Linked DNA regions of Homo sapiens: region 2 is linked to region 1. Evidence: fine-mapped expression QTL. A gene starts in region 1. The other region holds a variant in brackets. All regions are shown on one strand. Distances are from middle to middle.

The links. PIP is the estimated chance that this variant, and not a neighbour inherited with it, causes the effect.
Region 2: its variant is fine-mapped to the expression of CARD19 in lymphoblastoid cells (TwinsUK, PIP 0.95).

Annotation. Positions count from the first base shown.
Region 1 is chr9:93,091,815-93,100,131 of GRCh38, reverse strand. CARD19 (caspase recruitment domain family member 19) reads right to left here and starts at 3,915. Exons shown (of 6, transcript NM_032310.5): 1 at 3,780-3,915. The coding sequence starts at 3,786. It overlaps LOC101927993 (a long non-coding RNA gene), which reads left to right and starts at 4,622. Exons shown (of 4, transcript NR_188444.1): 1 at 4,622-4,764; 2 at 5,118-5,561; 3 at 8,039-8,140. RefSeq lists enhancers at 1,615-1,684, 4,878-4,927 and silencers at 3,558-3,667, 3,688-4,437, 4,458-4,767.
Region 2 is chr9:93,125,690-93,134,006 of GRCh38, reverse strand. It overlaps NINJ1 (ninjurin 1), which reads left to right. Exons shown (of 4, transcript NM_004148.4): 2 at 7,369-7,597. LOC124902212 (a long non-coding RNA gene) reads right to left here and starts at 995. Exons shown (of 3, transcript XR_007061665.1): 1 at 414-995. RefSeq lists a silencer at 1-211 and enhancers at 502-551, 2,033-2,630, 2,631-3,229, 5,856-5,915, 6,673-7,324. The variant A/G (reference allele first, on the strand shown) is at 3,563.

The sequences.
Region 1 (8,317 bases):
GGGGCCCTGTGCAGACCCTACAGACTGAGGCCCAGGTGAGAACAGCCCGTCTCAGTACGCTCGCCCTGTGCGGGGCTGGGGACCACGGTGATGGGCAGATCCATCCTCCAGGGGCTCACAGTGTAGGGGTGCGGGCTGGCATTCACCAAGCAAACCCACAAACGTATCCTTAACCCCAGAGATACCTGCCCTCCAGAGAACAATAGGGGGGCCATCCTGGTTCACAGGGCCCCTGATGATGCCCACATTGAGGCCATCAGCCACTCCATCATCTGGCTGAAGCCACTCACCGTGGGCCGCGCAGGGAGGCAGATGGCTGGGGGCTGGAAAGGCTGGCTCAGCCCTCACCTGCACTGAGTCCCACAGCAGCCTATGCGGACTTGCCAGCAGCCCCATCATGGTGAGGAAGCTGAGCACAGGGACGTCAAGTGACCTGCCAAGGCCACATGGACAGGCCCAGCTGGGCAGTCTGGGTCCAGCGCCTGCAGCCCTCTCGTTAAAGAACTAAGATGAATTAGCCAAAATTCACAGAGCAATCCCATATGTCTGGCACTCTGTGAGCCCTACGTCACCTACAACCTTCATCCTTCCAACAGCTTTGCAACATAAGGACAACCACCAGCCCCATTTTCAGGTAGGGAAACTAAGGCACAGTGAGAAGATAAGGTACCTGCCCAAGACTGCAACCAGATATGAAGTGACAGATCAAGATCCAGGCCCAGGCACAGCCATGTTGAGGACCACCTCTTGATATTCAGACGTTCTGCCTCTCTAATTAACATGGAAATTCACTGTAATCAGCTACAGCAGTCTACTCCCTGCCAGTCCAAAAGCACGCCCAAGGCTGTCCTCTCCAGCATTGCCCACTTGGCTGAGCACCCAGTAGGTGCTCACTAAAGAGTTCTGCAGGCCGGACGCGGTGGCTCACGCCTATAATCCCAGCACTTTGGGAGGCCGAGGCAGATGGATCATGAGGTCAGGAGTTCAAGACCAGCCTGGGCAACATGGTGAAACCCCATCTCTACTAAAAATACAAAAAAAATTAGCTGGTCATGCTGGCACACGCCTGTATTCCCAGCTACTCAGAAGGCTGAGCCAGCTACTCAGGAGGCTAAGGCAGAAGAATTCCTTGAACCCAGGAGGCAGAGGTTGCAGTGAGCCAAGATTGCACCACTGCACTCCAGCTTGGGTGACAGAATGAGACTCTGTCTCAAAAAAAAAAAAAAAAAAAGAGTTCTGCAATGTATGGTCCAAGACCCAGGGGCAAGGGCTGTAGGTGGACCGTGGCCAGCATCCTGTAGTGGCTTCCTCCTGCCCTGCAAGCCGCTAACCAGGCAGAGCCTCCGCTGCTGCAGAGCCATGAGTCACCATGAGCCGTGAGTCAGCTGGCACAGGCCGCACGGTCCGGAGGCTGAAGCCAGGCTCTGCGGCTTGGGGGTCCTGTGCTTCCTGTGGTTGCGAGTTGTGCACACAAACAGGCAGCACTTGGAAGCCAGAAAAGGCACAAGAAGGGAAACCATCTCAGTGCCAGCTCCCGATAAACAAGTCCCTGAACTGTTTTTACAGGACAAAGGAAGATGGCTCGCTCTGGCACAGACCTGGCAAGCCTTCACCACGCCCTACATCCCCTTCCTTCTTGCCAGGCTGGCACCAGGACTATGGACCCCCATTCAAACACCCCAATATGAACCTTCTTATCAGCCCAGACTGATGCCCTCAGCCTGGCATTCAAGGCCCCGTGGGAGCTGGCCCCACCCACTCTCACCGGGCCCTCTAGGCCCACAAGACATCTCAGCCCAGGCTGAGAATACCTGTTCCTTGGTTTCCACCTGGTTAATTCATGTTCACCTTGCTGTTCTACGTGCAAAAGGCCTTCCTGAGTTCCTGTCATCCCCAACCAACTGGAGTCCAGACACTTGGGCATCAACCTCCTCTCCCGAATTTCTTCCAGGAAACCCCTTCTCTCAGTGCTCAGCCCAACTAAAACTGCTCACTCCCCGGCACAGCCCAGGGGGTAACTTGTCAAGCACCTGCCCCACGCAGACACCTCCTCAGCGTTCTGCAGGCACTGGCTCACATGCGCTGCTCACAGCGAGGGCTGGCGCAAGGCAGGACCCCAGTTGGTGCATGGAGGCAGTGAGCCTGGGACTATGGGTCTGCAGCCTCGCAGGGCTGTCCATATGACCCTCCCAGAGCTGTGCTCCATGGGCCTTGGTTCCCCATCCCAAAAACTAAGGGTTGTGAGGGAATGTCTCCAGGCCCAGTGAGTAGACATAGCAGGTAGGAAGCATACACTGGACAAGGTGAGGCCTATAGTCAGAGCCTTCAGGGACCCCTGCCTGATGTGGTTTCCCAGCTCCAGGGTCCCCTTATGCAAGGAAGCTTCCCTGACAGGCAGAAAGGGACAAAGTCCCTTTGTGCAGGAAGGCTCCTTAATGGACAGCAAGGCCTCAGGCTCTGCCAACACCCAGTCCCTGGGACAGGGCTCCCTGGAGACCAACACAGCTCTGAGTTGTGTCCCACGCATTCTGATGAACTCACTAAGGGAATTACGGAATCCCAGCCTGGGCAGGGCACAATTTAAGACTTTGTTTCCCCATCTGTACACAGACGAGATATTCCAGGTGTCCCCATCTGATCATTTTCAAACAGGAATCACCCAACACAGGGTCCAATGCACAGTAAGTGCTCAGAAATGAGAGCCACAAATAAGAAGAGTTAGAAGGGAGGACAAAGGGGAGCAGGTGGCAGCTGGGGTCTCTTGTGGCCTAGGCTGGAAGTCTCTTCTGGCCTGGTGTCCTGGAAGTCATCAGTTTCCAGCCCATGAGATCCTATTTGTGGGCAGGACCTAGGCTGAGACTCAAGAGAGCGAGCACCGAGAGAGGACTAGGGACTTCTGGGGCTACCCTGAGCCCCTGAGCCAATTCTGCTCCATGAAACAGAACAGTAAGAATGAAGTGTAGCTTCTGGGAACCCCCATACTCCCTGGCCGGGCTGCCATGGGGTCCCTTACCAGCCCATCACCCTCATGGGGCTTCTCCAACAGGGGAAGGTCCACAGGGCAGAGTCACCCTGTTTGGGATCAGGAGGATGGTGGGCAGGTCCCCAGACCAGAGAGGCCCTGGGGAGGAAGGCTGGGCTGGGGCCACTAGCGTGGAGCACAACAACCTTGGGGGGTCCAGTCGCTGTCCCCGATTCTCTTAGAACTAAACAGGGGCAAGAGCGTCGTGGACCACCGAAGGAGTCTGGGAGACTCCAAGAGTCCCACAGGAATCACATGCCGCCGAGGAACGCATCGCCTGTCCCGCGACCTCGCTGGGGTGGTTGTAAGGATGGAGCGTTGTTTCCGTGGCCAGAATCACAGCAGGACCGCTGTGAATTCTCTCCGGTGTCATTTCTACCACCTCCTACTCTTTCAGACCAAATTCCCCACCACGGGACACACACACATTGGCAGTGGCTGAGCCCAGACCGCGGCTGTGCAGCCCCACCCTGGAGCTGCCTTGTAGCCCCCGCCCTCTTCGGGCCCCGCACCTGGCCACCACCCATCATGCCCGGCACCGCCTCGGCTGGCACGGCCCCGCCGGGTAGAAGCCCCGGGACACCCACCACTTCGCGGGGGTGCACTCGCGCACCACCGACAGCTGACGGGCCAAGGTCACTCGGCCCCCGCTGCCCAGGCGCGGCCTGCAGGCGACTCGCAAGGCAGCCGGACCCCCGGGCCGGGCCACCCATCCAGGGCGCCCGCATCCCTGCCGCCCAGCCGACCCCGTGCCCACCTGTCATGGCGACGGACACAGCGCCGCCCGCAGTCCCCAGCGGTCTGCCCCGCCGCGCGTCCGCCCCTCGGTCAGCCGCCCGGTCCACCAGCTCCAGCGAACGCCGCCCGCGGGCCGTGCTCGCCCGCCCCTTTTGGCTAGGCCAGCCCCCCGGCTTTGGCTGTGTAGCCTCGGGGACTCTAAACCCCGCCCTTTGACGAGCCCCGCCCCCTACCGTTAGGCCCCGCCCCTTCCGCGCCCGCTACGGCTCCCCCAGGGCTCTAAACTCCGCCCCTCTCACTCGAGTCCCGCCCCCTTGCCGTCCTGGGATAGGCCGCTGCGAGGATCCTGGAGCCTTGCCCCTCACTCGAGCCCCGCCCCCTCCGGCGTCGGCTTCCGCCTCTCCCGGAGTTCTGAGCCCCGCCCTGCACCTGAACCCCGCCCCCTCCGACGACGGCTTCCGAGCCTCAAGGAACCCCCCACCGGGCCCCGCCCCTTACTCGAGCCCCGCCCCCCTCCGTCGTCGGCCTCCGCGCCTCCAGGGGCCCTGAGCCCCGCCCCTTCCTGCTCTGCCATGCGACTGCGGGCGTGGGCGGGCGACTGCGGGCGTGGGCGGGCGCCACCGGACTCCCGCCCCTCCCAGCGTCAGTTAAGACGCCGCGAGGGGCCCAGAGTCCCTCCCCTCGCTGGGCCCCGGTCCCGCCGGCGTCTATAACGCCGTCGCAGCGGCCTTTAACCCCGCCTCTCACTCGAGCCCTGCCCGCGTCCAAGTCCCGCCCTCAAGGCGGCCTCAGCTACGACCGCCGCGCGCCTCCCTGGAGGCGCCCGCTCCTGCCCGGAGCCCTGCCCGTCTTGGGCCCGCCCTTCCGGGCCCTGCCGCGTTGAGTGGCGGAGTCGGGATCCAGGTGGCCCGCCGGCCGGCTCAGTCCACCTCCCCGCTCCCGGCCTCGCGCCCCACCCCTTGGATGAGAAAACTGAAACTGAGAGGGGACGTGACTGATCCAACGTCATACAGAAAGTCAGGCCCTGGGGAGTACAGGGCCAGGCCTGGGGCAAAAGGCCGGTGGGCGTCCAGTACGCCACAGGGACCAGCCAAAGGAGGCAGTGCCCAGTGATGCTTTCCCAAATCCAGGGGAGAAGGACTCAACGGTGTGACCTCGCTCGGCGGGGTGGGGGGGGGACACCTTCTTGGGGGACCCCAGTCCCCCACCTTCAAAAGAAGACACTAGCTTGACAGTGTGACCCGAACTAGAGAGGTCACTTAACCTGCCTGAGCCTCAGTTTCCTGGACTGTAAAATGAGTGACCTTGGGCCAACTCCACTTCCCTCCCGCTTTCCTTCCTGCTTTCCCTCTCGTAGGCCTGGCATTTCCAGCTCCGGAGCCCGCCACAAGAAGCTCCTAGCCCCACATGATGTGAATGCACTGGGCCCCAGCCAGGAAGTGGAGACCCGTGAAGGAAGGAATAGCAGCACTCTCCCAGCCAGCAGCAGCAGTTTCCCTTCCTCTTTCCTTCCCTGCCTGTGTGGGCCGTTCCCCCATAGCAGCTCTAATTTGAGATGCCAGAGCCTGACCCGGAATGGGGGCCCAACTCAGTGTCCCCTTCTCGGACAGCACAGTGGTCCCTGCAGTCCATGCGCCATCTGTCTCTTTGCCTCAGTTCTCCCCTGTGCCATGACCTCCCATCAGGGCCGGCATAGGGGGCATCAGGAGAATGGGTGCAGTTGTCACCTGGAAACCTCAAAATTCTTGGGGCCCAGTCATGGTCACTATACAGCAGCCACCCCTGTCCCCAAACACTGAAGGTGAGCCCCGTCCATGCTCCCCAGGAGGCCAGGCTGCCATCAGACCCAGCCTGCCCCAGGCCCATGTACAGGGCCGTCCCAGGGCAGGAGGGTAGTGGACCAGCCTGTGGGTCCCTGCAGGCCTCTCATCTGCTTGTGTGCCTGGGTGAGTCCAGGCTGGCTCTGGCCTCCAGGTGCTCCCCTGGAGGACCCAGAGGGGGCTTCCCCAGAGGGCCTCTTTTGCCCCAGTGGGATGCAGCCTGACCCCAATTCTTCTGCATCCATCACACTGTTATGACGTGTAGTACTTACTTCTCTGGGTTTATTTTGCACACACTCCTGCCCCTGAGTGATGTCAGAGCCATAAGGGTGGCGACGGAGTGGAAGGGGGACACAGTGGGGACTGCAGGGGCTCCAGGCACTGCCCACCTTCAGGGAACCTTGACCCCAGCCCCTTTTGGGAAAGGTAGCATCCCACCTTCACATCCACTTCTGCGCCCTCAGGACTGCCCCTGGCCATGTGATGAACAGGGAAACTGAGGTTTGGAGCATGAAGCCCCTTGCCCAAAATCTAGCAGCCAGATGTGGCCTCCCAAGTACAGGTCGCTGTTCCTCAGCCACCTGAGGGTTTGAAAAGGATTTACTTAAAGGAACCCAAGCCTGCATGCAGGGACTGAAAGCCCTGTGCCCTCTGGGATGTGCCCTCCAACCCTATGAGATGGAAGGCCGCGGCAGAAAGCAGGACAGCTGCTGGTGCAGCCAGGGGTGTACAGCCTGGATGCCCACCACGGGGGCTGCAAGCAGGCACGGGCACCCCATGGTCAAATGGCAGATCCTGGGCATTCCCCCTCCCCCAGGCATAGCACACGCATCCTCCCTCCGGGCTAGCTCTTGCCAGCTGTGGCTGCCTGGACCCCAAATGGAAAGTGAGTTCTTGGGAAGGTGGAGGGGCCCCTTAGAAGGAGTGAAGTGAGGTGTGACAGGAAGCCCCGCCCTTGGACACTGTCAAAGAAAAACCAGAGCTGGACTGTGGTTACAGATGTAGAAACAGATTTTTATTCGGGACTCTTGTGATAGGGGAAGAGAGACATCAGCAGAGAACTGGGCTCAATTCCAAATACAGCAAGGACACTTGGGACAGGAGGGGACTTTGAGGATGGAAAATTAGGAAGAGGAAACATCAGGGTGAAGGGGATTCCGGCTGACAGAATTCTTGCAAAGACAGCCTGGGCTTACGAGACCTCACCCAGGGGATGGTGGGGGTAAGCACCCTGATTGGGTATCAAGGGTGATCAAGTATCCAGGGTGGGGAGTTCTTGCCAAACTCATTAGGAGGATTCTTTGTTGAAACTGGATTTTACAAGGAAGTTCACAGATGGGCCAAGGAGAAAGTTCAGGACCCTGGCTAAAGTTTGTCAAGCACAGAATCTTTGTCAACGTCACAGAAGCCAGAGCCCTGACACACACACACCCCCACTCCTCTGAACGGCCTCCACCTTACTATTTGCTTCTTTCAGATTTTCTTGCCATCACATGCTTGATCTCATTAGAAAGCAGGCACAATTTTAAAATTATACAGGCAAAGCTAATTTCCACAGGGGTTCTTTGCACTGGGTTGGGTGGGGGCACTCCCCCTGGTTTTCATAGGGCCAGCCATTCCTCAGGCCTCTGCTCACCTGCACCCTGACCCTGTGGGCTCTGCCTTCCAAGCCCAGCCCTGCTCCCACCTCAGTGACCGCCATCCCTGTTATGTCTTGCCTGGAAGGTGGCAGCCGCCTTCTCACATCTCACTGGTTCCCTGCCCCATCCTTGTCCCCATGGCCCAGTACCCACATAGTGGCCACAGGGGTCATAACACTGAGTCTGACCATCCTCCTCCCTCACCCGGGCTCACAGCCTTCCAGTTCCTCCAGCAGCCACCTCTGCCATTTACAAATCTTCATGTGTGCTGTGACCACCCAGAATGCTCTTCCCAGCTCTGTGTCTAGCATCCTCACCCCCACTTGGAGTCTGGCCCTTCTGGACCACGTCACTCGCCACTGCACCCCACCCCCCATCTCTGTTCTTCAGAGCACTAGTCTTGCCCTATGATGGCTTCTCCACTGACCATCATCTGTGCTGCAGTGTTCACTCCACAAAGGCTGGCATGCAGGAGGCACTTAATGAATGCACACAGATAGTTCTGTTGATGATTAGGGTTAAGGATAGGAGGGCAAGGACAGATGCTATAAAGATGACAGGGTGGCCTCCCCGAGAGGCTGATGCTGAAGAACGGGTGTTCCTAGGCCAGGGCAGGAGGCATGAGGCCCCCATGGGCTGTGGGAGACCTTCATGGCTGAAGCTGACTGTAACCAGGCCAAGAGGTGATGGTAGGTGATGAAGGGCCTGAACACCAAGGAGCAAGGACATTCTCCTCCCACATTCTCACATGGCCAGGGAGCATCATTTATCCATTCAGTCACTCATTAATTCATTCAACAAATATCTCCTAAACATAGGCCCAACCCAGAGCTGGATCACAAGGAAGACTGGAAGCTCCACTCCCCCATGGAGCTTCCCTGTTACCAGAGGACACAAACACACATCTGCATGTTGATCTGGTAAGAGCTAGGGAGATGAGTCAGGCAAAGAAAGAGGCGGAGGATGCCTATGAGGTTGCCAGCCTCCAAGGTGGCCCCAGCAATCCTCACATTCCAGGTCATGCCCTTGTGTAGTCTCCTCCCACAGTCAATCAGGCTGGTCTGTGTGGCCAGTGAAGTGTGGCAGGGGTGACAGTG
Region 2 (8,317 bases), 34 kb before region 1:
CCCGCCCCATCAGGGTCAGAACGATGCCCCCGGGAGCTCCAGCCACCCCCGGCAAGTGGGCGGGACGAGGGGGCGTGGGGGCGCAGGGCGGGCTGGCGTCCCCAGCCCCACTAAGCAGCGCCCGCGCTTGGCTGCACGGCGGAGGGGGCCTCGGCGCAGCTCCTCGGGCTAAGGACTGCCGGCGCCCGGCTTTCCCGACCTCCCCCCCACTCTCGCGCGGGCCTCTCTAACTTCAGCCTCGCCGTGCCGGCTCCTCCGCGCACTTTGCCCGGAGGCGGGCGGAGGGGAGTCACAGCCTCCGGGCTCCAGACCAGCTGCATGCAGACAGTTACGTCACCCCACGCTGACCACACAATCTGATGCGTGCCTTGATGGGGGAACTTGGGGCCCGCTGTGGTCCCTATTCCACTCACCTGCCTTGAGAAATAGAAACGTCACACAGCCTTCAGTGTATGCCGCCACCGGCCCTCCAGAACTTGCCCTGCCCGGCCTGGGAGGGCTGTGGGCAGGGGGCAGGCCCTGGTAGTGGTCCCGCTTCAGAATTCTTCATCCCAGGACTCAGCACTTACTGAGCACCTTGTGTTTGTTGCAAGGTCCTGGCATGGCCCTCTGGTGACTTGTTTACTTTGAACATTCTTTCCTTTTCTAACCCCCTCAGGGATGGGGGCAGGGAACAGCAGCCTGTTGGGTTTTTCCAGGCCTCTCCATGGCGTGGACCAGACTGGGGCAAAGACACTCTGCCCACTCGCTGGTGAACAGTCCTAGGCCGGTGCTGTGGGGACAGGACATGTTCGGGGAGGCGGGGCCCCATGAGCCACGGGATAGGATGGCCCTGGGGCTGCATGGACACTTGTTCCTAGGTTAGAGAGGAGCTGTCGCACTGCAGGACTTGACCGGTGTGCGGGACCCCAGCGACCTGGCCCTGCCCCAGTGTGTGAGCACTTTGGAGCAATAGGCAGGGGGCTCCTCCGGCTGTGTGTCCTTGGGAAGTTGCCACACCTCGCTGGGCCTTTTAGACATGGTCTTATAAAGAGAGAACAAAGGGTCTCTCCTGCCTTCAGGGAAGTGGGGAAAGCAAGTCAGGTAATAAACAGGTCAGTGGCTTGGAAGCGCCTTGGAAAGGAAGGGATACTGCTCCTCCCCCAACCCTGACCTTGCCCGGGCAATGCCCTCCACTCAGAGCAGTCTCTGCTCACTTCTGCGGGCGGCAGGATAGGCTGTGCCTCCTGAGATGGGTGCATCTCAAGCCCAGAGGAGATTGGGTTGGATTTGTTCCCGGATCACTGTCTTGGCTCTGGGCACCAGAGGGAGAGAGACACAGCCCCGCCCCACCAAGCCGCGGTTGGAGAGCAGCCCAGCCCAGACAGGGCAGGAGAGGCCAGGGCAAAGCAGGGGGTTCCCTGGGGGCTGGGAGCCCATCGTGGGGGGCGGGGCATGGTGGTCAGGGAAGGCTTTCTGTGGAGGTGGGGACATTGGCTCTGAGCCCTGGAGGGCAGGGAAGGTGGGTGAGCAGATCTGGCTCTCTGAGATGTGTGGAAGGGCATCTAGGCAGAGGGAACAGTGGGAGCAAAGGCTCAGAGGCTGGACCACAGAGCACATGAGGGCCAGGTAGGAGGTGGGGGGATGGGAAGCCAGGCCGATGGGAGGGGCCTTGCAGGCCTGATCACGGTCTGGTGTCCAGGGAGCTGTGGAAAGGCTATGAGCCAGTGTGAGGATGAGCACATTTCCCCTTGAGGGGTAGAAAACTTCGAGGGCCGCTCTGCTCACCCAGCCTGGGGGCCCAGGACCACCCAACACACCTGTTCCTCTTCCCAACCTCAAGACCTTGCTTCTCCGTTTCTTGGGCACATCATGTCAGCACTCTGTGCCTCAGTTTCTCATCTGTGAAATGGGTGTGGTCGCGGTGCCTGCCATAGAGAGTGGTGAGGACTCAGTAGCTGATGTATATGAAGTGCTTAGAGCCAGGCCAGCACTCAGCGCCCTCATCCTTCTGCCTGCCACGGAGACCCTCTCCCACTGGTGACCCCTGGCAGTGGTTTGGAGAGGGCAGCGCTTTGCCCAGCTCCCTCAGTTTCCTTTTCTGTAAAATGGAGAGTCTCAGTTTCCTTTTCTGTAAAATGGGGCACAACTGCTCACCTCCCAGGGTGGACAAGGCTCAGGGAGGAGCCACACGTGGAACTCCAACCTGGGTGGGCTCTGTTGGGCCACGGCCGTGGGAAGCTCTCAGGTCTCCCCTACCCCGTGTGCCCTGCGCCCCTGTGGCCCTTCATGTGAGGGCCCCCATCAGTGTCCAGGGATTGAGTCAGCTCACTTGTGGCTGTCAGCAGAAGGAATAGTAAACAACAATGTTAATGTGAAAATGGCCTGAATCTGTTATCCCCAGGGTGTCTCAAGGCAGGGAGGTGGTGGGGATGGGGTTAGGACACGGCCATCTGGTGCCAGCCACACCTTCCTGCCCCTCACAGCCCGCAGGTTGAAGGTTCCTGGGGCCACATCTGGGCCGAGAGGCATGGTCCTTGGAGGTAGGTAGCTGTGCCCTGTATACCTGCCGTCTGGGCCGTGCATGGCCTCAGCTGCCCAGGAGGAGGTTTGCTCGTTTCCTCATTTCCGCTTTCCTGGCAGATCCTGAGGCCGGCAGGGTCTGGGCCAAGTTCTAAAAGGCAACCCTAACATGGTCTCAGGGCCACTCGTGGCCAGTGCTGAGTCCGCGGGAAGTGGGTCTGCCTGGCCCAGCTGTGGTGGGAACCCCGCCTTCCAGCACTTCCTGCTGTCTTGCTGGGGTTTCCTGCCAGGAACACAGACATGGAGCTGGGAGACCCTCTCAGGGCCTGCTTCCTGGGCTGGCCGGTAGGAGACGGTGCAGGGCTCCAGTGCCAGGCCCTGCCTGTCTGTGTGGCATCTGGGGAATGGGCACAGCAGCTCATGCCCACACTGGTGGGTCAGACAAGGGATGCCGGAAGCCCCAGGCAGGTCCTAGCATATGGTGGGGTAGAAGAGGGGTGCCTGATTTTCAGGTCGCCCCACCATCTGCCAATGCCTGCTGAGTCCAAGGGTTAGGGCCAGTGAGCAGGACAGGCTGCGAGCAGCCAAGGTGTAGACTGGGACCCCCCAGGCACCCAGGGCAGGCACCTCGTCCCTGTTGTCCCCCTGGGTCCTGCTCAGCACAGGAGAACCTGTGCCCCAGGCTGTCCTTTCTTTGCTGTGTGACTGTTTTGTGAGCCTGTTCAGCTGCTTTTGAGTCAGTGGAGTTGGTCGGGGAGGCAGAGTCTTTCAAAACAGTGAGAGCCAGGCATCAAGGAAAACAGCCCTGCCACCCACTGCCATGCGCTCCACCAGCCACGGGGCATCTGAGACCACCCCATTCAGTCCCCTCCACATCCTTGTCTACCCATTTTACAAATGAGGAAACTGAGGCATAGAGTGGTCAGTGTTGAGGCAGGACTCGGGGGGTAAAGGAGGTGCTGTGGCAGCTTCCAGCCCTACTCCTCACAGGCCCCTGGAAAGGGCGACTGATATGCATCACCACATTTGTGGGCCCACAGCCCCGACCCTGTCTCCTCCC[A/G]TCCAAGCCCTGGGTGAGCCAGAACACCCATTATGCTATGGCCAGAGCCAGGCCGGTGGATGCAGCAAGCCTGGTTCATATCCCACTTCTGTGCCAGCCCCTCCTGCCTGAGCTGAGGATGCTCACTGAAGTGGCCCTAGGACCGACCGTGTGGCCCAGCCCCAACATGTGCAGCCTGCAGTGGGGAGGCCGACCGTCCACAGAAGGTTGCATGAGGAGCCAGCCACGCCCCTACACAGAGCTGACCTCCTCACCAAGCCTCCCTCCTAGCTTTCAGAGGAAATATATCTGGCCTGGCCCCAGGCCCCGAGTGCTGCTGAGGTTCTGGGAATCTATTAACCAGGGTGTTTATTCCCTGCCCTGCCCAAGCCATGGGCACTGGTCTCAGCAGGGCTTAGCTCCTGGCAGCTCCTGCTGGCTGGTCAGGACCACAGGGCTCCCTCACCTGTGGTAGCTGGGTCCCCCGGCCACCCTCAGGCCCATCCCAAGATAGAGGCAAGTGCCCAGGACTGGGGGAGAGTGGGATCGTCCTCCCTGGGACCCTCCTGTGTGGTGGTCAGCTCAGGGCTCCAAGGCCCAGAGTACCAAGGTTAGGGACAGGGAAGCAGACTGTCCCTGCTGCCCTCCCCTCCACATGATGCTCCCAATGTGGCCTGCTGCCTGGGGTGGTTGCCAGCTATGCTGTATCCTGGGGCAGCCCTATGCTTTGGGACACACAGTCCTGGGAGATGGCTCTGGGAAAACCTCCTCTGAGCTGCAATCTGCTGGTCTGTAGAATGGGAGAGGAACACAGCCTCTCCCTTGGTAAGCAGGAGTTTCCCAGGTGCAACCCTAGATATACGGAGGGGGAGACTGAGGCCAACGGAGGGGGAGCTTGCGTCAGGGCCACGGGCTGGGCTGTGGTGAGCCAGGGCTTGACCTGCATGCAGAAGCTTCCCTAGCTGCAGGTTGGACAGGAAGCAGATGGCCGGATGGGCTGGAAGTGCCCTTCACCAGCAGGGGTGCATGGTCAGGGCATTTGCTGGCCACTCGGGGCTCAGAGGCCATCCTGGGGCATCTGCTCCACAGCCTCGTGGTACACATGGAAGACTGAGGCACAAAGTGGGGCTAGTTGTCCGGACACAGCTGGAGCCTGAAGCAGGGAGCCATTGAGAGTTCAGCCCCTAAGGGACAATGGCATCAGCTACCAGAGCTTCTGAGCCCCGGGGCCTGGGTTCAAATCCTAGCCAAGCCCTCACTTGCTATGTGGCTTTGGGTAAGGAACCGCCTTTGCTGGGCTTCAGTTTACCCACCTTAAGTGGGCATGAGGACAGCAGGGGCACAGGCTCCTCGTGGCTGGGGGTGCTGAGAGCTGAGGCTTGGGGAGCTGGAGGCTCTGCGCGGATGGTGCTTTTTAATGGATCTGAGTGTTCCTCGTGACTGCATGGCTGTGAAATATTTAAATGGTTCTGCAGAGCTCAGAAAAAAAGGGAATTCTTCCTCCTGCCCAGAGGCCAACACAGTTAGCCTGGGCTTGTGTGTCTGTTTATGTACGTGTGCATATGTATGTATGTGCATGTGTATTTGTGTGTGCGTATTGTGTGCACATGTGTGTCTCACGTCTATGTGTGTCTTTCTGGGGGATGTGTGTTTCTGTGCTTTTGTGACTAGGAACACGCACATATATGTGTAGATGCCCCCAGAAGGTGGAAATCCTCACGGGGTCTGCACTTGGCCTTCTCCCAGCACCAAGTCCTGGGATGGAGACCCGAATGAGCATAAGGGTGGCCTTGAAGGAAGGCACTTTGGCACTTGAGGTTTGTGAAACTTAGGAGCACATGCCCACTGTGGCCAGCAGCCCCTGGGACACTGCACCTTGCGGAGCACACGTGTGATGGGGTGTGGCCCACTGGGCAGCTTCGCAAGAGCAGAACTGGAGACGACCTCAGTGCCAGGCACAGGCCCTTGTGTCCGGGCTGTCCTCACCCAGACCCTGGGCAGCCTGGGAGGAAGCCCCTAAGTGGACAGTGGTGGGACAGGGACACACAGTCCTGGGAGGTGGCTCTGGGCAAACCTCCTCCAAGCTGCAATCTGCTGGTCTGTAGAATGGGAGAGGAACACAGCCTCTCACTTGGTGAGTGCCCTGGCTGTGCTGGGGCCTGGGGGAATCCCAGGGAGTGCAGCGTCAGGCCCAGGGTGGGAGAGGCAAAGTAGACACCCCATAGAGGCTTCGGGGTATGCATGGAGTGACCCGAGAGCACACCAGGGCCCCAGGGACAGCGCTGCTGGGTGGCCCAGGTAAAGGCGGCTGTCCCTGTGCGCACATGTGTCCACGTGAACTTGCTACTTAGAGAGCAGCTGATGCTGAAGGCAGGTTGTTGGAATTCCCAGGCCCAGGTGTAAGCAGCAGAGCCCACCAGTGTCCCCTGACGCCCACTCTCTTCCTCCTGGGCACATAATTTTAGATGAAACTGAAAAACACGCAGCATGAAAGCAAGGCCCCTGCCCTCTGCTGGTTCTGTATTGGCTGCCTCGTGTATTTTTCCAGCCTGCAGAAAGTCGAGGCCTGGATGGATACCATGTCCGCCCCTCCCTGTGGCCCTGCGGCACCCCGGCCTCCCGGCCTGCATCTTTCATGAGTCTGGAAACAGGATCTCCCAGAGAGGGCCCCAGGAGGTTGGCTGCCAGCAGTGGGTTCTCACAGCTGCCTCCAAGCAGGTGACCAGTCCTGGGAGGCTGTGGTCTAGGGCCTGGCAACTCAGGGGCGCCTGTGGACAAAGGGCCGGGCCAAGGGGCTGGCAGGTTTGTCCTGAGTGACTGAAGAGGGCCCCACCAGGGCAGCTTGAGAGGGGCAGACTCTTGCTCCAGAGAAAGAGGAAGTTTGGTACTTAGCTTGGAATGAAGGGCCAGCCCTAGAGAGGACCTTCCTGTGGCAGGAGAGAGGGCCATGTCCTGCCAGGGGAAGTCCTGGGAGGCTTCCTGGAAGCAGTGGCCTCTGTGTGGGGCCTTGGAGCTTGAGAGTGTCTGGCACCAGGGAAAGGCATTGGGGGCTTCGAGAGAACTGCAGGGGGCCCTGACCAGATAGGCCCCTAAGGCAAAGAGGATTCCATCAGAACTCGCATTCCCATTTTATTACTCTGGGAAGTAATGTGGAAGCTAAGCTCCACTGTATGTCGTATGCTGAGGCATCTGTTGAGCCTCTGCTGTGTCGGGGCCGGGCTCTGGGTGGCCCACCTCAGTGAAGTCTTGCTGCTAATGGCCGAATAGTTCTGCAAGGCCTGTGCTGAGGCCTGGAGGCGAGTGGCCTGTTGGGCCCCAAGGCTGGGAGGTTGGGAGGTGGCAGGGGCGATCTCTGCCCTTAGGTCCGGCCCAGGAGGACTTGCTTCTTGCCTGGGCCGGTGTGCACAGATCTGTCCGCCCACACGTCACTTCCTTTCCTGGCATCAGGAGCTCAGACTCTGAGGGGAGGGGGAGAGGAGGCCGGGGGCACAGACCGGTAGGGGCAGGCAGGGAGGAGCAGCCCCGCCTATGGCAGGAGTGGGAGGATCGGGCAATGCTTTCCAGTGGAAAATCAGAGTGCGTGTGCTAAGGTTGCTATGTCGTTTCCTTTCTCTCCAGGACCGTATTCCTAGGGGAGGTTTTATAAAGGCTGAGCACATGCTCGCAGCCTCTCCTTAGGGTAATAAGCACTTCTGTCTGAGCACTTACCAGGGGTGGGGGCAAGGGAAGCCCTCACCTGCAGGGCCCGGTGACCCCCAGAGCCCGACTCAGGCACAGCCCTTGCCCCCCTCCCCCACCCGCCTTGCTGACCATTCCCCTCCCTGCAGCCGGCCCGCTGGGGCTGGAGGCACGGGCCCATCAACGTGAACCATTACGCCAGCAAGAAGAGCGCAGCCGAGAGCATGCTGGACATCGCGCTGCTGATGGCCAACGCGTCCCAGCTGAAGGCCGTCGTGGAACAGGGCCCCAGCTTCGCCTTCTATGTGCCCCTGGTGGTCCTCATCTCCATCTCCCTTGTGCTGCAGATCGGCGTGGGGGTGCTGCTCATCTTCCTTGGTAGGTCCCCAGGTGGGGGCAGCCAGGCCACCTGCTCACCTTGCTGGCATCTGCTCGCATCGCCTGGGACAGGTGCCCACCACCTTGCACACTTGGCTCTCAAGGAGCTGCCGAGTTCCTGGCCCTCATCACCCAGACATGCAGTCCAGGAAGTGGCACCCCCCCTCCCCCCACCCTGCACTTTGGTTTTTGTTTTGTTTTGTTTTGTTTTTTGAAACAAGGTCCCCCTCTGTCACCCAGGCTGGAATGCAGTGGCGCAGTCTCGGCTCACTGCAAGCTGCATCTCCTGGGCTCAAGCGATCCTCCCACCTCAGCCCCCAAAGTAACTGGGATTACAGGCGCTCATCACCATGCCCGGCTAATTTTTGTATTTTTTGTAGAGATGAGGTTACGCCATGTTGCCCAGTCGAATTTTTGAGCTCAAGTGATCCAACAGCCTCAGTCTCCCAAAATACTGGGATTACAGGCATGAGTCACCACGCTCAGCCTTGTTTTGTTTTGTTTTGTTTTGTTTTTGAAACCGGGTCTTGCTGTGTCTTGATCACAGCTCACTGCAGTCTCAACCTCCCAGGCTCAAGCGAGCCTTCTGCCTCAGCCTCCCAGGTAGGCTGGACCACAGCTATATGCCATCATGCCAGCTAATTTTTTTATTTTTGGTAGACACGGGGTCTTGCTATGCTGCCCAGGCTGGTCTCAAACTCCTGGGCTCACGTGATCCTC